Homo sapiens: one gene and its partners. The protein of the gene in region 4 purifies or fractionates together with the protein of the main gene of each other region. This does not show direct contact. Each region holds a gene or a part of one and is shown on either strand. Other genes may lie near its edges.

The links.
Region 1: the proteins of LATS2 (region 4) and CUL7 purify together in Homo sapiens (affinity purification with western blotting; 2 studies listed by BioGRID, with this or other methods). This does not show direct contact.
Region 2: the proteins of LATS2 (region 4) and LIMD1 purify together in Homo sapiens (affinity purification with mass spectrometry; 3 studies listed by BioGRID and IntAct, with this or other methods). This does not show direct contact.
Region 3: the proteins of LATS2 (region 4) and CPVL purify together in Homo sapiens (affinity purification with mass spectrometry; 2 studies listed by BioGRID and IntAct, with this or other methods). This does not show direct contact.
Region 5: the proteins of LATS2 (region 4) and ALDH18A1 purify together in Homo sapiens (affinity purification with mass spectrometry, with the first as the bait; one large-scale study listed by BioGRID). This does not show direct contact.
Region 6: the proteins of LATS2 (region 4) and ANAPC1 purify together in Homo sapiens (affinity purification with mass spectrometry; 3 studies listed by BioGRID and IntAct, with this or other methods). This does not show direct contact.
Region 7: the proteins of LATS2 (region 4) and WWC1 purify together in Homo sapiens (affinity purification with western blotting; 2 studies listed by BioGRID). This does not show direct contact.

Annotation. Positions count from the first base shown.
Region 1 is NC_000006.12:43,043,852-43,047,351, forward strand, and holds part of CUL7 (cullin-7), read right to left. Parts: intron 3,257-3,500; coding exon 3,029-3,256; intron 2,751-3,028; coding exon 2,660-2,750; intron 2,557-2,659; coding exon 2,385-2,556; intron 2,241-2,384; coding exon 2,135-2,240; intron 1,832-2,134; coding exon 1,736-1,831; intron 1,552-1,735; coding exon 1,376-1,551; intron 1,296-1,375; exon of another isoform or gene 1,035-1,295; coding exon 901-1,034; exon of another isoform or gene 1-900. UniProt on the Homo sapiens protein: Core component of the 3M and Cul7-RING(FBXW8) complexes, which mediate the ubiquitination and subsequent proteasomal degradation of target proteins. Core component of the 3M complex, a complex required to regulate microtubule dynamics and genome integrity.
Region 2 is NC_000003.12:45,597,751-45,601,250, reverse strand, and holds part of LIMD1 (LIM domain-containing protein 1), read right to left. Parts: intron 1-3,500. UniProt on the Homo sapiens protein: Adapter or scaffold protein which participates in the assembly of numerous protein complexes and is involved in several cellular processes such as cell fate determination, cytoskeletal organization, repression of gene transcription, cell-cell adhesion, cell differentiation, proliferation and migration.
Region 3 is NC_000007.14:29,059,538-29,063,037, forward strand, and holds part of CPVL (probable serine carboxypeptidase CPVL isoform b precursor), read right to left. Parts: intron 1-3,500. UniProt on the Homo sapiens protein: May be involved in the digestion of phagocytosed particles in the lysosome, participation in an inflammatory protease cascade, and trimming of peptides for antigen presentation.
Region 4 is NC_000013.11:20,992,087-20,995,586, forward strand, and holds part of LATS2 (serine/threonine-protein kinase LATS2), read right to left. Parts: intron 3,115-3,500; exon of another isoform or gene 3,003-3,114; coding exon of another isoform or gene 2,982-3,002; intron 1-2,981. UniProt on the Homo sapiens protein: Negative regulator of YAP1 in the Hippo signaling pathway that plays a pivotal role in organ size control and tumor suppression by restricting proliferation and promoting apoptosis.
Region 5 is NC_000010.11:95,615,212-95,618,711, forward strand, and holds part of ALDH18A1 (delta-1-pyrroline-5-carboxylate synthase), read right to left. Parts: intron 1,404-3,500; coding exon 1,266-1,403; intron 1-1,265. UniProt on the Homo sapiens protein: Bifunctional enzyme that converts glutamate to glutamate 5-semialdehyde, an intermediate in the biosynthesis of proline, ornithine and arginine.
Region 6 is NC_000002.12:111,818,194-111,821,693, forward strand, and holds part of ANAPC1 (anaphase-promoting complex subunit 1), read right to left. Parts: intron 3,273-3,500; coding exon of another isoform or gene 3,261-3,272; coding exon 3,046-3,260; intron 1,230-3,045; coding exon of another isoform or gene 1,208-1,229; exon of another isoform or gene 1,096-1,207; intron 766-1,095; coding exon 647-765; intron 1-646. UniProt on the Homo sapiens protein: Component of the anaphase promoting complex/cyclosome (APC/C), a cell cycle-regulated E3 ubiquitin ligase that controls progression through mitosis and the G1 phase of the cell cycle.
Region 7 is NC_000005.10:168,424,145-168,427,644, reverse strand, and holds part of WWC1 (protein KIBRA), read right to left. Parts: intron 1-3,500. UniProt on the Homo sapiens protein: Regulator of the Hippo signaling pathway, also known as the Salvador-Warts-Hippo (SWH) pathway.

The DNA of each region.
Region 1 (3,500 bases), on a different chromosome or scaffold from region 4:
ACCCCATCTTTAAAAATAAGAAATAAGCATAAAAAAATAGAAAAGGCCAGGTGCGGTGGCTCATGCCTGTAATCCCAGCACTTTGGGAGGCTGAGGTGGGTGGATCACCTGAGGTCGGGAGTTCGAGATCAGCCTGACCAACACGGAGAAACCCCACCTCTACTAAAAATATAAAATTAGCCAGGTGTGGGTCAGGCGCGGTGGCTCATGCCTGTAATCCCAGCACTTTGGGAGACTGAGGCGGGTGGATCACCTGAGATTGGGAGTTCGAGACCAGCCTGACCAACATGGAGAAACCCCATCTCTACTAAAAATACAAAATTAGCTGGGCATGGTGGCCCATGCCTGTAATCCCAGCTATTTGGGAGGGTGAGGCAGAAGAATCACTTGAACCCTGGAGGCAGAGGTTGCAGTGAGCCGAGACTGCGCCATTGCACTCCAGTCTAGGCAACAAGAGCGAAACTCTGTCTCAAAAAAATAAAATAAAATAAAATAAAATTAGCCAGGCATGGTGGTGCATGCCTGTAATCCCAGCTACTTGGGAGGCTGAGGCAGGAGAATTGCCTGAACCTGGGAGGCAGAGGTTGCAGTGAGCCAAGATCATGCCATTGCACTCCAGCGTGGGTAACGAGCGAAAATCTGTCTCAAAAAAAAAAAAAAGAAGAATGATAAAGGGAGTGGGTAACAAGGCACCTCCAGCACTTATGGTGTCCCCTGACACTTGAGAGACATGGGAAAGGGGGCAGCCCCTGGGCTGTGAGAAGACAGCACTGGGATTACAAATGCAGGTGCCAAAAGGGCCAGGACATAATCCAGGTGGTTCTAGGGTAGAGCAAGAAGGAACTAATTAGTGGAACCAAGCCCTGAGATAGTAATGGGTCCAGATGTCAGGATGGTTACCAGGGGAGGTGATGTTCTGCACCACGGGGCTGACCAGGGCCTCCCAGCAGGTCTTGCCCAGAGCTTGGGCAGCCTCGTCATCAGGGAGGAAGCGGTCAGCAAAATTCTGCTCCTGGCGCAGAGCACCGTTGAGTCTGGGGGTGAGAATGGAGGAGGAAGGTGTCAGGGGCTTGAAGCATATGTTATCTCAGTGTCCACCCTTCCTAAGACTGCCAGCTAACCCCAGCACCCAAACCGAAGGCCCCCTGGTACTTCAGAACTGCTCTGTGCTAACTGGTATATCCCATTCCCAGCCCACTGGAGAAATCTTTTCTCTTTATCCTTTCTTCCCCTCCCACAGCTCAGAAAACTCCAGCCCCCTCCCCACGCATATTAAACCTCCATCTCACAGCTTCTATGGACCCCTGCCTGCCAGCTATTTGCAATAGCCTTACCTTTCCCACAGACACAAGCATACACGCACACTCTCACACACCTAGAACTCAGGTGCAGGAGGCTCCTGCGGTCCTCTGCCATGTCCTGGCTCCAGGCCTGTGCCCGAACCATGTAGAAGAGGCGTGTGTGACGACAGAGCTGCTCCCGGAACACTGGCCAGAACGTGGGCTTGGGGCCTAGGATCTCTAACCCCCGAATGCGCGTATCAATGCCACCCTGAAACACACACAGGACTATCTTCACTCGCTCCACACCTTGGGATGGGCTGGGGTCAGCTACGCCCTCGAACCTCACCCCTGGAGCTGCTCGAGACCCAGGCTGGTCCTCTGGCTTAAGATCTGCCTGTTTATGGGGCTCAGAGCCCCCTACCCAGGGCCACACCCCACATCCCTGGCCCCACCTGCTGGCAGCGCTTTATGCGGATCTGGATGATGGGCCAGAAGCGGGTCAGGTTCTCCAGGAGGATCACCCGGCTGGCAGAGGGCATCACATTCACCTGGCAGGGGGCAGAGAAAGCTGTCACCTCCACACATGCAGAGCCAAGTTGGCTCTAGGCTCCAGTCCCCTCACTGTTTCCCTCCCTTCCCCAGCCCTGGGATGTGTAGGGTCCTGACAAAGCTGTCCTCATGCCACCCTCATTGTTCAGGGCCTGGTGGCACAAGCACAGGGATAAAGGACACTACTTTCTGTGGGGCTCAAGACAGGTGGGAGTTAGAAAAAAGTAGGATAGGGCCAGATAGAAGCAGGAGGGCAGATCCTGTGAGGGGTGGAGTAATGGCTAATGGCCCTGGGGTCCTACCGAGTTGAGTTCCGTGTGAAGAGAGCTAGTGCTATCACCCCCGCACACCACCACTCGGGCCGGCATGTAACTCGAGTCCTCACTAGCCACAAGCAGAGTCAGTTGCCTGGGAGTGGGGAGGAAAAACCATTTGGAACTTGTAGACAGGGCCCATGGCCAAGTCCAGGGGGTGGTGCTTCCCCCAAAACAAACACAGGGGCGTCACAGGAAAGCACACGTGTGTGGCAAAGCACATGTGTGGGAGAGTTACCTGATGAGGATGCCCCGGCGCATGTGCAGGGTGATGTAGTGGGAGCCGGCGCTGCCGTTGGACTCCCAATAGGTCTTGGGGTTGTGGTCCGTCAGCTTGCTGGCCCGGTGCGGGTTGGAGGACACCTCCACCTTCTCCCAGCACTTGTCCTCCTTCACTTCCACACTGGAGCCTGGGGGCAAGTGGGAAGGGGTGGTGGTCACGGTCAGGTAGGGTGTAGAGGGGAAACAGACATAGGTGTGGGGAGGTGGAGCAACACGGCAACAGGCACGAACCCTGGCACAGGTATCTGAGGAACACATCAAAGAAAGGGATGTTGATGGGTTGGTGGGTTCGTCTGTGGTCTTCGATCTGGCCCAGCACCATCTGCAGCCAGAACATCAGAGAGAAGGGGCACAGGGGCAGAAGGAACACGGAGACACACACGGAAACACGGATGAAGGAGAGACCATGCAGCAGTGGGACTTCCTCTACAGCACCAGCAGAGCAGGCCCAGATGGGGCAGAGGGGAAGGGGAACAAATGCCCCAGGGTCACTAGAGTCACCTGCTGTTCCCAGCCATGGGAACACAGCCCTTACCCGCCACTGCTTGGGTTTCATATTCTGATGCCACTCTAAGCCCACAAGCTCCCCTTCCTCCTGACCTGGATGCAGCCTCCCAGGATGTTGGTGATGAGTTTGCGGTAGAGGTGGGCATGCTTCTCACACTTGAACACCATGTCCCGCAGCTCCTGAGCCAGCTCCAGCTTTCCCAGGTGCTTTTCCAGGGCCTTGGAGATAGCGTCTCTTGCTCCCAGCTGATTCAGCACCACGGCATAGTCCCTGCTCACTGAGGTCAGGCGGTGCAGGAAGAAAATCAGTTCCTGGAGCACCTGGGTGGGGACATAAGGGAGGAGATGAATGAAGACAGGGCGAGGGCCACAAGGGCACCTGCAGTAGCAGGTACCCACTGTGTACTCTGTGTACTGGGTGCTAGGGGTGCTACAGTGAGCAAGGCAGAGTGACGAAGTGAAAAGACAGGGATGGGGAGACACAAGAGCCAGGTGGTTAGAGAACCAAAGACAAACCAAAATGGAAAAGGGCACAAGATGCCCTGCTACTCTAGGGTTCTAGGCT
Region 2 (3,500 bases), on a different chromosome or scaffold from region 4:
CAGGTCCCAGCAGCTCAGCTCTCCTCTACCCACTCCTGATTCCTTCTCCATCTTCCACAGGTGGGGACCCCAAAAGCACCTTTTAATAAGCCCTTGTATGGTCAACTCTGTCTCAGTCAGCTTCCCAGGAAACCCAGCCTATGACAAGTGGTTTATTTGTGGGGTTTTTTGTTTTTGTTTTTGTTTTGAGACAGGGTCTCCCTCTGTCACCCAGGCTGGAGTGCAGTGGCATGATCATATCTCACTGCAGCCTCAGCCTCCTGGGCTCAAGCAATCTTCCCACCTCAGCCTCCCAAGTAGCTGGGACTACAGGTGTGCACCACCATGCCTGGCTAATTTTTGTGTTTTTTGTAGAGATGGGGTCTCACTATGTTGCCCAGGCTGGTCTTAAACTCCTGGGCTCAAGCAATTCTCCTGCCTCAGTCTCTTGAGTCGCTGGGATCACAGGTGTGAGCCACCACACCCGGCTTGTGTCCTTTTTCCTTAGAAAGGGAGAAGAGGACCAGTGTGAGGAAGATAGGTGGATCACATGGAGGAGACGGTGGGGCACAACTAACAAAGGCACGGTGCCCTCTGCACCCCACCTCTGCAGTGTCAGCAGTGGTGCTAAAACAGAAGCCACACTGCACTAGGTGGTGTAGGCCAGGAGCAACGCCTAGAAGACCAAAAACCCAACAACATGGACAGAGAGACACAAAGAGGCAACGGGGACAGGGGGTGGGGAGGATGGCTGGAGGAGGAAGTAGGCCCAGCAGAGTAGGGAAAGAGACACGCCTCTGTAGGATCCTATTTTACTAAACCCACAAAGACCAGCCATGGAAAGTGCCAGGAGAGTTCCCGTGCCAAGTTAATCAGTAACTGGAAACTGGGCATCTTGAGACTCTAAGGGCTTACAAAGGTGGCAACAGGGATTCACAAGCTCTTCCCACAAAGTCAAATGCCCAAAGGGACACCTTCAGTTCAACCTAGGAAGGGGCCCAAGCTAACCCAAACATCTACTTTGCTTTGCTTTTGGCCTGAGTGACATCACCTCTCATGGGGAGTTGTGTCACTCTGACTCTCACTGCCAAGCGCCCTGCACCATTAAACATTCTTCTGTTTGGAAGTAGAATCTAACCATTATTTAACAAATGTAGCGTGTTGGGTAGACAAAATCTTTCAAGTAATACCAGATGTAGGGGAGGAAAAAGTATCTGTGGGAGGGAGCCCCTCAGCTGTCCAGCCTCCTCAGGCTACCGACAAGGGAGGAGTGGTCTGGAGGAGCATGTGGTCTCTTCATGGTCCCCACACAGGGCCAGGCAATGACTGCCAATCTTCAGACCGAAAGACTTCCTCCTCTGCCCCAAGGTAGGTCGCAGAAGAGCAGATGGAAGCTCTGCCACCAAAGCAGGTGTGGAGCAAACCCTCTCCTACATAGCTGGCAGCTCAGCCCTGGCATGAGCTCTGCAGGAAGCAACCAAGCCACACCTAAAGGACACAAACCACGCAGCCCCACAGTCCCACTCCTGGGAGCTCATCTTGCAGCTACGCCTGCCCCTTGTAGGTGGGTACATTCCAAAGGCCCATCAGTGAGGGCTGCTTAGGTGACCTTAGGTGACCTAGGCACATTGCACAGCAGCCACGTATAGCCAGCTGAACACATGCTGATGTAGAGCCACTGCCAAGACGCTGTGCAGTGGAACAGCATGCCACCACTGGGGCTGGCAGAAACACACACATGCTTATTACACCCAGAACACTTGACTAGACAGACCAGGGAAAGAGGCTCGATTTTCACTGTGCGTGCTTGCTTATCTGTGAAGTTTATACAAAAAATGAATAAAATACACGATTCCGTTTCTAAATGAAATTCCAGAATAGGTAAATGCCATAGGGACAGAATGCACATTGGTTGTTGCCAGGAGCTGGGAGGGGATGGGGGAAACAGGGAGCAATTGCTTTATGGGTATGGGGTTTCCTTTTGGGTTGACGAAAACATTTTGGAACTGGACGGAGGTGTTCATTGTACAACGTTGTGAATGTATTAATATTAAACACCACTGAATTGTTCACTTCAAAATGGTTAATTTTACATTATGTGAATTTCATCTCAATTAAAAAAAAACCATAAAAATAAATAAATAAAATAGGCTTCCAAATCTCTGCTTGGGAGACTGTTTGGCAATGCTGGTTAGACACATGGGCCCTGAGGCTGAACTGAACTGTCAGGTTCAAGTCCCAGCAGTACCCAATATGACCTGTGACACCGCCAGTAAGTAATTTAATCTCCCTGAGCTTCCGTTTTCTCATCAGTAAAATGGGCATAATGGCAGAACCAGCTTCCAAGGATGCTGTGACCAGTCAATTCAATAGTCAGCATCAAGTGTTCAGTACAGTGCCCAGCACAGACCAGGCCTACAGGGACTCTGTGCTTGCTGTCTGCTCTGCCAAGAACACCATTTCCCTGGGAAAACACATGGTCCAGTCTCCTGCCTGCCTTTGCTCAAATGCATCTTCTAGGTGGGACATTCCCTGATCACCCAATTTAAAACTGGAAATCTCTCTGCCACCCCCAGCCCCAGGGCTCCATTCCCTTTCTCTACCTTGATTCTCTCCCTAGTACTTGCTTATTTACTTCATTCACTCCCTGCCTCCTTCTACTACATTGTCTGCTCCAGGGAGGCAGAGGTTCCTGTCTGTCCTGTTCACTATGTATCCCCAAGACCTGGAATAGAGCATGGCCTCAAGATAGGTGCTCAATAAATTTTAATATATGCTGAATGGATGAGTAGCGTCAGCTAATACCGTTGCTCTGATGCACAGCATAAACTTGCATCTCAAGATAAAACTGCTGTTTGTGTTGTCCAATGAGCTTGAAATTTACAACTAAACAAAAGTTTAAATTAAAAGACCCACAGTATTTCCAGCTAACTATTACTCCCAAATGTGGGAATGTGCTGAGGAGAAAAGATAGTTCACAGTAAGATGGTGCCATGTGCTTTAAAAAATAAACCAGTAGGCCGGGCACAGTGGCTCACACCTGTAATCCCAGCACTTTGGGAGGCTGAGGCAGGAAGATCACTTGAGCCCAGAAGAACAGCCTGGGCAACCTAGAGAGGACCCCCCACCTCCACGTCCCCTTCCTCCCCTGCTTCCTCTTAAGTAGTCCTAGCTACTCAGGAGGCTGAGGTAGGAAGATGCCTTGAGTCCGGGAGGTCTAGGGTGCACTGCACTCCAGCCTGGGCAACAAGGCAAGACCTTGTCTCAAAATAAATAAATAAATAAACAAATAAATAAATAAAAATAAATTTAAAAAAAGTAAGCCATAAACAGCTACCCTGACCTCAGCCTGCTGAGTATGGGGTGAGAACTGGCTCCCACAAGGTTCTCATGAGAAGCAAAACACAATGCTACCATAAGCTGCACACATCCAGCAGCCCAGTGCCTCAGACCCTGGTCCCTCAAAGGACCTTGGGACACTTGCTCGTTCACGGAGAATAAGCGTAGACTGACAGCAGTAA
Region 3 (3,500 bases), on a different chromosome or scaffold from region 4:
TTTAACATAGGTACGTTAATCAAAGTGACACATCACAGACTGAAAGACAAAACCACATGATCATCTCAATTGACACAAAAAGTATTCAACAAAATCCAACATCCTTTCTTGATAAAAACACTCAACAGTCTGGGTATACAAGAAAAGTCCCTCAACATAATAAAGGTCATTTACAAGTGACCTTTGGCTGAGTCCTCTCCCCACCCATGGTGTTTTAAACTCTCAGACTTGTCCCTATGGAGCCTCTAGTAATTTACCAATTACTGTTCAGGTTTCCCTTCCTCACCATTTGTTTCCATGGAGGGTTCTACTTACAGGTTTGCTCCTGTTAAGTTTTGACTCCCTATATTCATCTCTCTCTCTAATTTTGGAGGGCAGCAATTTGCCCTGTGACCTCAGTTTCAACAAATCTAAAAAGAGTTCTTGATTATATTTCAGTTTGTTTGGCTTTTTACTGTTGTTACAATGGAGTGGAGACTTCTAAGCTTCTTACACACTGGAATGGAAACTGGAAGCCTGTCCATTCTTTTTTATTTTTGTGTTTTCCAGGGTTTCTTGTATAACTTTTGAATGTAGCAAGATCTTAAAGACTTTCACAAAATTTGTTGAACATTTTTGGTAATAGCTTATATATATATAAATAAGCACCTTCTAACCATCAGGCACTCTTCTAAGTGTGTTTACATATATAATCTCATTTAAACCTCACAGAAACTCACACATAAATACTGTTTTTATTCCTGTTTTATAGACAAGGAAGCCAAAGCGCAGAGAGTTTAAGTTTCCTCTCCCAAAGGAGCATAGCCAGTGACTGGTGTAACCAGAGCTCAAACTCAAGATATGCAACTTAAGAACATGTTCATAACCACCATACTCTATTAACCAGCTAACTCCTAAAAGTCCTGATCATGTTTTGACTTCATTCAGTCATAAAGAATTCAAATAGCCCAACAGATTGTTTCTCTTTCTAGTTATTTTTGAAACTGCCAATATGATATTTCAATTTACCACCCAAACATCTGAAATTACTGAAAGGAAAATGACTTTTGAGTATGCATCTCCTGTATATCACTGTAAGAAAAGGATTATGTTTTCACGTAGCTTACATAGAAACTAACGTAGTTTACAGAGAAGCTAATTTTTATACAGAAACTACATGAAAACGTAATTCCAGAAACCCAGGAAGGTCTTCCTTCAACCATCAGAGATGCTCCACATTGGCCAAAATGAACCCAGTACTGGAAAAAGACCTCTAGTTCCTATGAATAGAAACAGGCATGCTATTTTCTATGACAAATTAGTACCGAGTCTTACATAAATATGACTTTAATGGTACTAACGTTTTAAGCCAACCTAGGTTGTTCTGATTCCCGTTCTGAACACTGAGGTTCAACATCATTAACAGACAAGCCAAAGATAATCACTATCCCAAGCGCTTTGCCAGCTGCGTGAGTGAACATGCTGTCTGTTTTAGCAGCAGCCACTTTTTGGTGGCATATTTTGTTCTGTTTCTTTATGGAAATATGGTTTATCTATACCACTAAACTCTTTTCTTTTTCTGGCAACCGATTCAGAGTTGAAAAGTTTATGCCAGACACGGTGGCTCACACCTGTAATCCCAGCACTTTGGGAGGCCGAGGCGGGTGGATCACCTGAGGTCAGGAGTTTGAAATCAGCCTGGGCAACATGGTGAAACCCTGTCTCTACTAAAAATACGGAAAAAAAATTAGCCAGGCATGGTGGCATGTGCCTGTAATCTCAGCTACTCAGGAGGCTGAGGCAGGAGAATCACTTGAACCCGGGATGTGGAGGTTGCAGTGAGCCGAGATCGTGCCACTGCATTCCAGCCTGAGCAACAGAGTGAAACTCTGTCTCAAAAAAGAAAAGAAAAGTTTAGAAAATACTGGATTTTGATTTTATTGGAATTCATAGTGGTAAGTTTAGGATACATGGGCAAGAGGGACAGAGAAGTTTAAATATCAAAATGCAGGATCACCTCTAATCAATATATTCTCCTTTATCAGTCAAAACATAAGGAGAGTTTATGTCATCAGGTAAGCTGTTTGTCCCACCTTACCCTCACATGGCTGAGAAAGGAATCATATTCTAGTTAAATTTGTACAGTGAGGCCAGGTGCGGTGGTTCATGCCTGCAATCCTAGCACTTTGGGAGGCCGAGGTGGGCGGATCACCTGAGGTCAGAAGTTTGAGACCAATCTGACCAACACGGAGAAAACTCATCTCTATTAAAAATACAAAATTAGCTGGGCATGGTGGCACATGCCTATAATCCCAGCTACTTGAGAGGCTGAGGCAGGAGAATTGCTTGAACCCAGGAGGTGGAGGTTGCAGTGAGCCAGTCGCACCATTGCACTACAGCTGGGCAACAAGAGCAAAACTCTATCTCAAAAAAAAAAAAAAAAAGTGTGTACAGTGAGAAAATATATCTCCCAAGGGCACAAATAACACATATCAAACTTATCTGCTCTCCTCTCAAAAAAATTCACTCGTTCCATTCCTTAACATCACATTACAGAACATCATCTTTAAGACATGAACGCTAACCTCTTTTTGGTTTAATAAATTTGTGGATAATAAGCACCTAATGGATTATGGACAGGTTTATAGATATATTTTTGATACAGCACTAATCATTCATTCATTCCTGACATCTGCTCCAGGCTGGTGGTGGTATGGGTGTCAGACTGAGAGTCTGCACGTTAGAGTGTGCCATGTACACCTATGGGGGTAAAGACAACGCGTTCTGAGAGCTCAGAGGAGAGGACAAACAGCAGTGCCTTCTGGAGGTCCTCTGAGAAGTCTTGAAGCAGCAAGCACTAAGGGCCACTACATGTCCCCAAGAAAACCAAACACAAGGATGGCTGAAATGCTGGCCTGACCTAGTTAGACTCTTTCTTTCCAAGAAAGTAAGTATTTCATCAAGTTTTGCAGGTTTATAATGGGTTTGTAGACTTGGCATATAATTGGTCTTAAACTATTTTCAACAATGGTTACGTGTCCAACACTGTACTAGAAGCAGGACCCAGAAATGGGCCTCCTAGGTCTGGCATATTCTAAACCACAGTCTAGTTAGGGTGCATTGGCCAGGGACTGCCTGGATAGTATTGCAGATTGTGCACTGAACAATCCTAAGACACACCATTCCTAATATACACATTGTAGAAATGAATATTCAGCATGCCAGCAAATGGCAGTAAAGAGTCTGGTTTTAACTAAGGCAGTATATCAGGACAATTTCTGAAAGATCGAAATAAAGTATCTTGAGGAGAGGATGCCTTTATTCTAATTCATACAAAAATCCTATGGGCTGCCGACTGCCCTGTTTTTTGTTCATTCAAAACAGGATATAGGGAGGAAGTGGATCACTCAGTGGTGGTCTCCCCAGTCATCAGTACAGGCATCCTTCGGAGTTGCCCTAGAGACGATCCCTTGGGCAAAGGCTAACAGCACTGGAGGACCAGAGGAGGAGCTGAGAGCGTA
Region 4 (3,500 bases):
GAGAAAGCCTCCTTCCACCCGAAAGATGAGGTGGTGGCATGGCTAGCTGTTCCAGACTTTGGGCAGGTGGAGAGCCCTGGGAGAGAAAAGGCATTCCTGGCAGATGGGACAGCCAGAGCAGAAGCCTGGGGAAAGATGGGCCCATGGCAGCAGCACGCAAGGGTAGGTGGAGATGGGGGGATGGACCCACAGATGGGGGCCAGGCTCTCCAGGGTTTTGCTCCTGTCTGCAGGCATTCGAGGAAGCTTTCAAACTGGGACATACGGCATCAGCAGGTCAGGCTGGGGGCGGCTGTGGGTGCAGAGCTGGAGGCACTCAGATGGGGGAGACAGAATAGGCAGGAGGGTACCGAAGAGATGCAGCCCAGTGGCGCGGGGCGGTGAGGCTCTGATGAAGGCGCCCCCTTCACCTTTCAGGACAGCTCCGCAGAGCTGTAGGCAAACAGGGAGGGTGAGCAGAGAGAAAAGAACACCGTTGAGGCTGGCTGTGGGACAAGGGCAAAAACAGGCAAAGGCCACAAAAAGGGCTTCAGCAGAAGAAGAAAGGCTGAGCACTCTGAAGGTCAACGAGGAGGGCAACCAGGCAGGAGGAAACTGAAAATGTAGAACGGGGAGCTCCGGAAAGGAGTCCACAGTTACCCAGACAGCAGAGAAGAAAGGGGTGGAGATGGCTGGGCGTGGTGGCTCACGCCTGTAATCCCAGCACTTTGGGAGGCCGAGGCAGGTGGATCAAGAGGTCAAGAGATCGAGACCATCCTGGCCAACATGGTGAAATCCCGTCTCTGCTAAAAATACAAAAATTAGCTGGGTATGGTGGTGTGTGCCTGTAGTTCCAGCTACTCAGGAGGCTGAGGCAGGTGAATTGCTTGAAACCTGGGAGGTGGAGGCTGCAGTGAGCCGAGATCACGCCACTGCACTCCAGCCTGGCGACAAAGTGTGACTCCATCTCCAAAAAAAAAAAAAAAAAAAAAAAAAATGGGGGGGTGGAGATACAGAAAGACCCCGGACAGTGGGGGAGGCCGTGCAGGGCTGCTCTGCAGCAGGAAGCCTGGCCATGGTCACAGAGCCACTCCGCAGAGAGAGATGCAGCACTGAGTGTCCCCCACCTCTGGATAGGGCATTGTGGTGCCCATGATCTGAATCGCACTCAGCTGTGTGTCTGTGGTTCCCTTAGGACAAGAAGAACCTGGCAGGGCCTGAATCCATGTTACTCATGGTTGCTTCTGCCCCCTTAACACAGTGCCTAGAACAAATTAAGCACTTATTGTCCATATATGATGGTCTAATACTGAATCAAGCTTTCCAGTCCTGGCCATATGCCAGCAGAATGGCAGCACAAAAAACACAGGCTGTAAACTGTGTTCTTAGCAATGCAGGCGTGGGCATGGCAAGATGGCAGGGACAGGCAAGGGGCTGCAGAGGAGCACGAGGTGGAAGGCCTGGGGAGGTGCCGCCACATGGGCAGGCCATGTTGCCTGCCCATGTGGGACATGGGACATGAAGTGACAGATTGGAAAATGGTAATAAGAACAGACCTGTTTGTTAAAGTGGCGCCTGGACTACCAGAAAGGGCAAGTGTTTACAACCTGGAAGAGTTGCAGAGAGAAGGCAGCGGTGGTTCAGAAGGGAAGTGCTTCCTGACCCCACCTGGGACAGGAGATAAGACTCCCACCACCGCCTACTTCGGGAGCTATGCGATGAGATCACGTCTACGAAGACTCAACAGCTTGGAGGAAGACACGATATAAGACCACATCTTTGTGGGATCACCCTGGAGCTTTTGGCGCCCATTAAAAAAATGTGCCAATTGGGGCTGACTCTAACCACAAGCCTTTCCATCAGCACTAACCGTTCAATTGCTTCATCTGAAACGTGACCAACGCTCTGTCTCCTGCAGGGTGAATCACCAGCCTGTGCTCATTAACCCAGTACCTGTTGACTGCCAAGGAAGGGACAGCTCCAGGACAGACTAGGTCAATGTGGATGTTCTCAAATTCCCTCCCTGTTTATGGAGCACCCACTACTCAAGATGTGTATGTTTATTGTGCATCAAATCTAGGAACTCAGAAAAATCAGCAAGGAGACCACAAGTGAAGACTCATGTTCAGAAGGGAGTTTCAAGTCCTAAAAGTGAACCGTACTCATGAGCCGGCTTGTTTATAAATAAACCCTTCAAATAACCCATGTCCTTTGAGGCTTGCCCTTGTTATCTGTCCATCAACCCTTCTTTAGCAAGTAAGTACTTCCTATCTGTACATTAAATCTCAGAAGATGCTACTGTACATATACATAGAGCTATGTTTTAAACACTGAAGGAAATGGGAATCCACTTCTAAATCCATCAGAAATACATGGCCTCTGGGCACAAAGTACATGCAGAGTCACAGAGTGAAGACAAGTGCACAGTCGGGGGAATGGCAAGAGGTCGGAGCCAGGATGCGGGAGGAGTGTGTCAGAGAGATGCAGCTGAAGCCTGGCCGAGGAGCTTGGCCACTCACCTTCCTTTCTTAAGCATGTATGGAGACCAAGCTGGATGTGGTGGCTCATGCCTATAATCCCAACACTTTGGGAGACTGAGGCAGGAAGACTGCTTGAGCCCGGGAGTTTGAGGCCAGACTGGGCAACACAGTGAGACCCCGTCTCTACACAAAAATAGCTGGGTGTTGATGGCGCATGCCTGTAATCCCAGCTACTGAAGAGGTTGAGGCAGGAGGATTGCTTGAGTCCAGGAAGTAGGGCAGGCTGGGCAACAAAGTAAGAATGTGTCTCAAAAAAAAAAAAATAGAATAAAATATTTTTTAAAAGAAGAATGTATAAAGATCATCATTTAAGGGTCCTTATCTAGAATCGTAGGTGGCTATTCCAAAAGATGGCAGGATGGCGCAGTGGTACAGGGCGCAGATAGGGAGGCCACACACCTAGGTTCACCCCTCCCCTCTGCTGCTTAGCAGCTGTGTAACTTTCAGCAAATCATTTCCTTACTTTGAGTGCCCGTTTCCTCATCTGGGAAATAAGGCTAATAGGTTGCTCTAGGGATGAAAGGAGATGTCATGCTTGGGCATCAGCATCACTTAAGGGTTAGCTGTTACAGTTCACAAAGGTATCTTATGTGTTTCTGGGAAAAAAAAACATAAAAACTGTAATTGTAGATTTTATGCATGTTTGATATTTAATGGCTCTAATGTTTTACTGTGTATTCTTCTTACAATAATTATACAAAGAAATGTAATGAGTTCTTTTCCCCAAGCCTCAATAGACACCTCCAGTCTCTTCCAGCTTACCTCAGGCTGCTGTGTAAACATTATCCACGTCTATGCATGCCAAGATGTGGAAAGGGTGAGCAGCCCTGCCCCAAAGCAAGAGTTCAGCTGCAAGCCAACTGAAGGCGAGGACAGTTCAGGTATGTGTTCTGGTGTCTAGCGTGTAGAAAGAGATCAGCAGATATCTGTTCAATGAATGATTGAGTGAGTGACTGAGTTAGACTGTGACATAGGATAGATG
Region 5 (3,500 bases), on a different chromosome or scaffold from region 4:
GTCCCAACTACTAGGAAAGCTGAGGTGGGTGGACTGCTTGAGCCTAGGAGGCTGAGGCTGCAGTGAGCCGAGAGCCAAGATTGTGCCACTGAATTCCAGTCTGGGCAACAGAGCAAGACCATGTCTCAAAAAAAAAAAAAAAGGCAAAAGTAATTTAATGTGACAGAAGTCAAAAAAGTAGTTTGTGGGGAAGGGGGCTACATATTGACTGGGAAGGGCACAAGGGGGCCCTCCAGGATGTTGGACTGTTCTGTATCTTGATACGGCTGGTGGTTATACATGTGTGTGTGTGAACAGTCGCAGAGTGGTTCACAGGATCTGTATACTTTACTGTACGTATGTTACACATCAATAGGAAGAAAAGGAGGGAGGGCACCTGTGTAAGCTAGGAAGTGGTGGGGCTGGGATTTGAATCCCTAAAATCTGCGCTCTTTCCAACCACTATGTGGGCATAAGAAAAAAACCAGATTCTGGTCACTGAGTGTGTAATGAGCAGGTTTGTAGACATCCTCCCAGTAGCCAACAGAATCCTGGAATGTTGGAGCAAATGAGCCAAAGAAAAAAAAGGATCTGGAGTCAGCCTAGGTCCAAATCTAAACTCTATCACACACCATGTGACTCTTGGGGAATTACTTTACCTCTGAATCTGTTTTTTCCCAATGTAGAAAATGAGTCTAATAATTAATGATATTTTCCTTATGGGACTGCTGTGACGATCAAATGAGTTAACGGATAAAATGAGCCTTGCACATAGTAGGTACTCAACAAGTAGTAGCTATTATTATCAAACTTCATTTGACAGTTGAGGAGAATGAGAAATGGTCAGTTAAAGTGATGACCTTAATAATAATAGTGATAACAGCATGATCTCATACTCAACACACCGCATGACAGTTTATGACAAACTTTTGTAAAGTTTCTCATCTGACTTACCCTAGATCACTCTGCCAATGACAGGAACCTAGGCCTCACACTCTAGTTCTGGTACTCCTGCTGCCTTGTGACCCAAAGAATGAAGGTCTAATTGACATTCTTGTAAATAAATAGTGCCAAGACGCAGCTGTAAGGGAGGGGCCTTCCTAAGCCACTGAGGACCCATCTGGCTCTGCAGAATGGCCTAAAGTCTGAAGGCTCACAGGCCTGCTGGAGTGTCAAGTCTGCTTGTAGTAGTGTCTTGGCTCTGTGTGGCCTAAGTTTTGCTTTAAATTCCCAAACACCTGATCTGGCCCCTCTGGGCCTGACTTGGTGCATTCCCAGGGACCTACCAGTTGCACGGCCTCCTTGACTCCATGGATTGAGAGAGCCTCCTGGGTCAGGAGGTGGAGAATCCGGTTGCTGTGTGCAGCCTCCTTCCCTCCTTTGAGTAACAAGCCATTGCCACTTGCGATAGCCAAAGCTGCCACCTGCAGATCAAAGGGAGAGCAGTGGATCAAAGGAGACAAACAGTAATAGCAACAGTGATGTTAGCATTCACAAGCACTCCTTCTGTGCTAAGCACTGTGTTCATCATTTTAGAAGGCCTATGCTGTTTCATCTTCACAACACTGCAGTGAATTAAGTGCCTGTTTTATCCCCTACTTTACAGATAAGGGCACTGAAGCCCAGAGAGGCTGATGACTCCCCGAAGTCACACAGCTTATAAATAACAGGGATGGGAGCCAGACTGAGGTGGTTTGACTCCAGAACAAACCACTGGATTTTAGCAACTAAACTATATGGCTTCCTTAGCACCATTAGCAAAGAGAACTGAGTTGGCCAGGTATGGTGGCTCACGCCTGTAATCTCAGCAATTTGGGAGGCTGAGGTGGGTGGATCACCTGAGGTCAGGAGTTCGATACCAGCCTGACCAACATGGTGAAACCCCATCTCTACTATAAATACAAAAATTAGCCGGGCATGGTGGCAGGTGCCTGTAGTCCCAGCTACCCAGGAGGCTGAGGCAAGAGACTTTCTTGAGCCTGGGAGGCGGAGGCTGCAGTCAGCCGAGATTGCACCACTTCACTCCAGCCTGGGCAACAGAGTGAGACTCCGTCGCAAACAAACAAATAAAGCAAAGAGAACTGAGTTAAGTGGCCAGGGCCACATGGCACCCCCCACCGTGGAGAACAGGGTCTTCAGCCACCTCTGTAAGGAAGCACTTGCTTCATCTGATCAGGCTGAGGCTGGGCAGCTCCTCTGGCCACATCCTACTCTGGCCTTGGAATTGTTCTGAGAGCTCTAAGTGCTTGGTGCTAAGAACCTGGAGAAGACCAGAGCTCCTGCCAGCCCCTGGGCAGCTGTGGTAGAGACTGCTGAGAACAGAGTCTTTTTCCCACATGCCTGTCTGGGGAGGAAAACGTAAACCATCCAGGAGGAGGGCTAGTTGCCTTGTTAGAGCAAAGAGTGAGTGACACTGACCTGATCATCCTACCTCTTACAAAAGTTAAGTAAACTTTCTCCAGACATAAACACACAGAATATTGCACACAATTTTTAGGATTCATGGATTCTGTGAAACCATCCAGGGCTGAGTCCAGATGAGGAGCCTTAGCTGTAGTTAGCTAATGAGGTATCAGCTCCTTGTGAGGTATCAGCTGGTATGGATGAGTGGTAGCAAAGAAATTTCACGGATACAGTCCACAGAGAGACTTAGGCCCATTTCTACTAGCAGAGGTGAGTCTGGCAGTCATCACTGGGGCATTTCTGCAAGACAGGTATGTGGCCAGAGAGGTAGTGTGCCAGCATCAGCCAGGGACTGAGGATAGGCCTCAGTGGTATGGGAGTCCCTTGGTGAACACACTGGTTTTAGGGGATGTCAGAGAGTACCCTTCACAGAGCATTCCAGATTCCACAGTCAACTATGTCTTATAGTAAAGAGGTGCTAGTTTTTTGTTTTTACAGTAGAATTTCCCTTTGAGACTTTGGGGCTAGTGCAAAGGAAGAGCTGGTATCCTATAGGACAGTCCAGTGGGGGAAATGCTCCCAGAATTCTGGGAGGCAGTTTAGGGTAATAAAGTGGGGCCACTCTCTAATGACACCTTGTATTTCCCAGCATGGCTGCTTGGCAAGAACTTTAACGCATGCTTTCTCAACCAGAGGCTGTGATATGTCAACTTGCTTAAAGAGGGTTGCATTCTTTTCTCTTTTTTGAGATGGTATCTCGCCCTGTTGCAAGGCTGGAATGCAGTGGCACGATCTCGACTCACTGCAACCTCTGCCTCCTGGGTTCAAGTGATTCCCCTGTCTCAGCCTCCTGAGTAGCTGGGACTACAGGTCCCACCATGCCAACTAATTTTGTATTTTTTAGTAGAGACAAGGTTTCACCATGTTGGCCAGGATGGTCTCAATCTCTTGACCTCGTGATTCACCTGCCTGGGCCTCCCAAAGTGCTGGGATTACAGGTGTCAGCCACTGTGCCTGGCCGACAGTTGCATTCTAATTTCCATTAACTACTGAAAGTTCTTTTTCCTAACAGATGTACTTATAGGAAGCCATCAGTGATACTGACAATAAAGGGGTCC
Region 6 (3,500 bases), on a different chromosome or scaffold from region 4:
TGATTAAAAACACGTGTATACAATACATACACATAATTATAAACACATACATTTATTTGCTAGATATAAAAGGATGTTCACTGTAAATTTTTAAAAAAATCTAAAATAGATATAAATTTTCTGATAATTAAACAAATATAAAATTATAAATATGTGGAAATAAACTTAGTAAACATATATACTAAAATGTTAAAAGGAGTGATGCAGAAGAGTGGGAGTACTGCAAGCGACCATTGTTTCTCTTTTTGCTTAGTACATTTCTTGATTTATACAATGATCATCTGTTTAAACTATGACGTAAGACATTTTAAAACTAAATATTTTTACATATTAAACTTAAGATTATTTAAAATTCAAGTCTCATCGTTATCAATAATATCTTTCTGAACTTCTCCAAGTGACTTTTTAGATCTTAAAATCACCTCATTAAAAAGCAAAAATGAGTAATGAACTATATTCTGCTTCTCTCAAAGTTTAGTTTCACATGGCATTTGAGCTTTGATAACCACTACAGCAGCTATTAGGAAAATTTTAAATCACTGGGGATAGAGGGAGCATTTCTTTTGTTTTAACTAATTTAAAGAACTACACTTAATGCATGTACTTAATCATTTTCCTTTCTCATTGAGCCCAGAATTTAACATACCAGTCAGATTCAATTTAGGAATAGGCAATGGCTCTGTTGGAACAGGATGGTACGAAAACAAGGTAAACATTCCTCGTCCTACAGGAAGAGCCATAGTTCGCTGACACAATTGGAGCAATCTGTAATTAAAGTAAAAACCAACATATGAAAATGTTTAAAGCAAAGAGCAATTGAAATATCATCTGTAAGTATTTCAAAAGAAGGTGTACTGTATAAGATGAAGTTGTCTCAAAGTAAATTCATACACAGATGTGAGTGAACTACCCAAACATGATTATTTTCATTTTAATATTCTTGTTCCTATTACACTCTTAGGGAGAGACATATTTCCTCTGTTTTGTTTCATATTTACATTGAATGAAAACCACCTGGCCTATAAACCCAGCCGACTCTCTCTAGGCATTCAAAAAAAAAAAGAAATTTAAAATTCCACTCCGATGGATGCTAACCTTCTCAAAGGAAAATACAGTACTTTTGGGGTTTTTATCACTGTGTTAATTTCAGTCTAGCTGTCCTCAGTACATGTGGGATCCTCCTCCCATCCCTTTTGCCAATACAGCCTCAGAAGTACCATTTCTGTGGCCTGTACACAAGAAAAGAAACAAGGTCCTTGTGTTAGAGGTGAATGGATTTCATGGTGTCTCCAAGGGAAATACAGATTGGTTTCACTTACATGATGGCTAGATTTATAGGACTAATACCATTATGTATCAGGTATGTTCAAGGTTAAAATGGTTTCTGTTGGCTCTACTGTGAAATTAATACACCACTCTTCAACTTCTTCCTATGTTAAAATAGCTTAACATTCCATATAGCCACTTAAAAAAAACTAACAGAAATTTTGGAAGTAGGGCATTTATAACTAAGAAACGCCTATACAAGCTATATCTGAAGACACAGAAATATCCCTTCAGAGGCTGACAACTGACAAACATTTTCTCTGCAGACAAAGCTATTCATAAGCATACTCCCTCCTTAACTGGACACACATAACTGCTTTTCTAGCTAACTGGAAAGAAAAATTTTGCTGTCTTAAAGATTCTCTGGGAACACAACCGCAACATTAATTTGGGATCAGGAAAATTCAAAGCCAAGAGGCTGTTGCAACCCATAGAATTTTTTTAGAGGAAATCTTACACATAATTCACTTCAACTTTGCGCAAGTAACAAAATTATAATGAGAACAATATTATATCCCCTGAATATAAGATGCCACTGATAAGATGTATCATTATTTCATGAGAAACTAAGAAAGAAAAAGCACTGCCAATTAAACTATGACACCTGTTCACTGAAATACACAACTGATTTCAGAGATATTAAAAAGTGAAAAAACTTGCATCTTAGAATCAATGAACTCTACTACTAATAATGGCTGACTGCACTGAGCTTTACTATGTATTGAGCAGTATTCTAAGTGCTATGTAAAAATAATTCACTTGATACACAGCACCATCCCATGAAGTATGCCTACTTTTACAAATGAAGCAACTGAGGCAACAAGAGGTAAAGTAATTTAACCAAAGTCACCCAGCACAGCATGGCCATGCCTGGCTCTAGAGGCCATGCTCATAAATCCTATGCTCTAAACTCAACTTCTGTCACTCCATCTTTTTATTCACAGGTGACTAATAACTGGGTACATGTGGAGAGGAAACAGTTAATAGGGAAATCACAACTAATTCAGATCTTCAGCAGCCTGTGGCTAAGTGTGGGTGATGGTTCCCCTCAAAACAGTACCATAAAAAAAGTAAAGAGAACTAGAAAACAGTGGCAGATGAATGATAGATGATAGAGACAAGCAGATAAAAGAACAGGAGAGAATTTTAAAACAGAAGTGTCCCAAGAGAATAGCTCTGGAATGTCATAGGCATGTGAGTCTTATAATGTATCAAGGGATGTATCCTGTGCAGGGGAGTGGCAGAAGAAAGGCTTATCTATTTTTATTTGGAGTATCATCTATCATATCCAAAAAAAAAAAATACTCATACAAGTTTAAACTACACTAAAAACCCCACTAACCTCAAAATCTATTCCTGATCAAGACACAGAAAAACAAGTCCAGTGTTTTCTTTGTTTGTAAATTCTTAAGGTAACTATCAGGCAAAATAGTTTTACATTCACCTTTTCTAAAGAGTAAAGTGTTATATGTATTTCAAGAGGAGGACGATATGAAATACAACAATTACGTCCTCAAAAGCCAAAGACATTTTGCTAACACACGTGGTTTGTTGAAGTTGGATGAAAACTTAAAACACAGGGCATATTTTCACTTGAAAGTATCTTTTAAATCTCTTTAGGGTTTTAAATGCTAAAAACTTGAAGGAAAAACAAATATACACAAGACACAAATGTAACAATGAAACATGACAAGAGATAGTGCACGTGTTTTCTTTCACCTGTTTTCCTTTTCCTCGATGAACTCGTGGTCACTGAGCTCTGGGTACTGCACTACGTTGACACGGACAGGATGCGCACTCTGAAGAAGCCTTCGCACATCCTGCACCCTTAAATCTTCACTCCATATTAATGACATGACCTCGTGATTCATGTCATTCATGCCGTCATCTTCCTCCTCAGTTTCTGTTCCTGAAGGAACATCTGATGAGAGCACCTGAGTAACAGACTTTATTGTAATAATAATTTCAAAAGCAGTTAACATGCACTTGCTGAACATGAGGATATATAGGCTGATGTGTCTTGACTATACTAGCACAGAGAAAATATGTTTTCCAAAGCAGGCATGGGTTGGAGCCGCAATGTATACTGGGACTCTAATCTACAAATCTTTCTAAAAAGTACTATATTGCTGGCCGGGTGTGGTGGCTCACACTCTGTAATCCCAGCACTTTGG
Region 7 (3,500 bases), on a different chromosome or scaffold from region 4:
CCCAATTTTGATACACTCTCTATGGAAGACAGACGGTTCCACCAAATTCCAACCACCTCTAAATGCTAAAGCAAAAAAAAAAAAAAAAAAAAAAAATTAAAAAAAAGTTTGCTTTAGGGTGATGGAAGGAGTCACATGTGATTTTGTGTTTTACCATCCCAGGCTCTTGAGTCGAACTGCCTGGATTCAAATCCGGCTCCACCACTCACTGCTTCATGACCTTGAGATACTGACTTAATCCTGTTAAGCCTCAGATGCCTCATTTGTAAAACTTGGATAATAATACCTACTTATAGGGCTGTTGACAGGACTCAGCGAGACATTATAAGGGAAGTCCTTAATATAGAGATTGGTGCAGGCAGGCAAAGTGCTCTGCAAAACTCATTACAACTATCCTTATTGCCACTACTGTTCCTATCACTGTAGATATCCATACTTTCAATGGCAAAAACTGCAATTACTTTTGCATCAACCTAACAGATCCATCCCTACCCACCTGGGGCAAAATAACAGCCCCTGGACCCTCAGGACAGAGAAGGGAGAGATTAAGCACCCGTTCTTCCACTGCCTATCCCTTTCCACTCCGAATTCAGCTCCTCCTCTTCCCTAACCTTAACAGGGGCCCTTGAAAGTCTCTGATCTGAGGCTCATAACTAAGCACTCAACACGTGCTGCACATTCCTTCCTTGCCCAAGTAATGATCACTCACGATGTGCCAGGCCCATTGCCATGTTCAGAACTACAAAGATGAATAAGACAATTCCTGCCCTCCTTGCAGCGGGGAAGGCCAGATCCAGATCTTACAACCTCACAGCTAACACCTCTGAGCACCTGCGGGCAGACCGGAGCAGGGCAAGGGCTCGCAGCATTGAGGGGCACAGAGTCCAGGGCATGGCAGGCCGGGGACGGCGATGGGTGACAAGGCGGGTCTGGGAGACTGCAAGTGCTGGTGATGGGGAAGCTGAGCCTGCGTCCCATGCCTGCTGAGCCCGCGGAGACCTCCTGCTTTCAGACCCACGCATCTCCACCCTCCACTAAACCACTTAAGGAGATTAATTTGTCTGCTGACTGAACAGCGGCACTAATCACATAACCTGCTTAGCGTCTAAGCTCTGCCTGGCATTGCTTGCTGCAGGGAAGGCTTCTGGAGATGGCATGAAGGAAATGCCATCCCGAGACCTGTGTGTGCCCAGCCTAATGTGCTGTCTGAGGCCCACAAGCCCCAAAGACACTGTTAGGGAGGGGAGAGGAGGGGGTCACTTCACAGGACATAGCTGGGGTCTGAGTGTCCTGACTTGGCTTAATATTGATATCAGAGGCATGCTCTTTGAGCCTTGTTAGAGGTTCCACCTGCACCCCCTCCTCTCCAGGGAACAATTTTCTGAGGCTTGCCACCTGCTATAGTAGGGCGCTTGCTTTTATTTTGAGAGCACTCAGCAAGACTCCCTTCCTGATGAGGGAAACCCAGGGATCTCTCGGCTCCTCTTCTAAGGAAACCACTGGCACTCAAAGCCTTTCGTTAACAAGGAAACCTCATTTCCCTACCATGCTCCCACTGGCCCTTGTACACACATGGATAATTCTGGGCACAGCAGCACCACTCCTGCCCATGCCTGGAGCCACAGAGCTGACATGGGTCTGGCTGCTTCTAGCTGGCCTCACCTGGAGCCAGGAGCACCAGCTTTTTGTAGACAGAACTCAGCACATGGATAACAGTGTGCGTTCTGAGCAGGTGGTCCTTGTGCCAGTCCTGGTCTTGCCATTTCACTCTGTGGGACTAACCTCAGACAAGTCTTTTAACCTCACTGTGCCTCACTTTTTTCATCTTTAAGATGGGGATAAAAGGGGCTGGACTTGGTGGTTCACGCCTGTAATCCCAGCACTTTGGGAGGCCAAGGTGGGTGGATCAACTGAGGTCAGGAGTTCGAGACCAGCCTGGCCAACATGGTGAAAGCCCGCCTCTACTAAAAATACAAAAAAAAAAAATTAGCCAGGCATGGTGATGTGCACCTGTAATTCCAGCTACTCGGGAGGCTGACGCAGGAGAATCGCTTGAACCCAGGAGGTGGAGGTTGCAGTGAGCCAGATGGTGCCACTGCACTCCAGCCTGGGTGACAGAGTGAGACTCCATCTCAAAAAAAAAAAAAAAAGGAGATTAAAAATAGCACCCACTTCCCAGAGGTGTTGTAAGGCTTAAATGAGTAAATATGCAGAGAAGTACCTAAATCCTAAACACCTGTACGCTATATATCATAGCTATGATTATTGTGAGCTATTTTTACTGTGGCCAGGAAAGCCAAGAAGGCCCAGGTGAGTTTACTGAGCATCCTACTCAGTCCTGACCTTCACACCCAGAGCCAGATGGGGTTGGTGGGGCCCCAAGCACCAGGAGTTGGCATGAATGTGCATGCTGAACTGCCTCCCAGCCTAAGGCATGACAATAAGGGGGTTGGGTTCCGGGGCCAGAAACACTCAGGTTCCTATCCCTGCTTCCTCACTTGTTGGCTGGGTGACCTAAGGCAAGTGACATCACCTCTCTGAATCTCCAATTCCTCACCAGTGAAATGGACAGAATAGAAATAACTGATTTCACCATGTATCAAGCACATTACCCAACTCATAATATATCCCCAATAAAAGTTAACTATTATGATTTATTATGTGGTTGCTGCTAAAGATAAAAAGGTTTTCTCCTAATAAATCTTAGCTGTCAATGTCAGCATCATCTTCTATTTTGAAGATTCCAACTTAAATTCCGGCCAACACCAAAATGTTCTTTCTGACCCCATGCAGAATGGGAGTCAGATCATATCATTCCTGGCTTCAAACGGTCACATGGGTCCCCAGTGCAATTAGGATAAAATCCAAACTCCTTAGCACAGCCCACCAGGCCTTTCAGGATCTGGACTCTTGCCTAGTTCTCCAGCCTCACTGGTAACCCCCTACCTCTGACTCATGGCTTCCTGGCTCCCCTTCTAGTCCCTTGCTCTGACCTCAGAGATTTTGCTCTTGCTTTTCCCAAGGCTGGCTCCATCTCACCATTCAAGACACCCTCAAATGTCATCTTCTTTCACAACCCAACCTGCCCTGGCAGTCCCACCTCTAACCAGAAAGGCTGGATCACATTCCCTGTTTTATTTTCTTTGTAGTGCTTGTTTGGTTGCAGGTTTATTCCCTGTGCCTCCATTTGAACATAAGCTTCATGAGAACAGGGACCCTGTCTGTCTTCAACACAGAATCCTTAGTGACCAACCCAGTGCCTGGCACCCAGCATATCTATAATCATGAATAGATGAATCCATGTATATCCATTAGCACAGGATGACCTGACATTTAGTTTTATGAGGTGCTAAATGTCTGTTGGAGGACAGAATCTACTACTGAAAACCCTTCACACAGGACCTCAAAAATACTGAGTTAATAAACATCCACTGAATAAATATACTTGCCATACAAAGACCCAGCACACAGAAGCAGTCAGTAAATATCGACTAGAATGA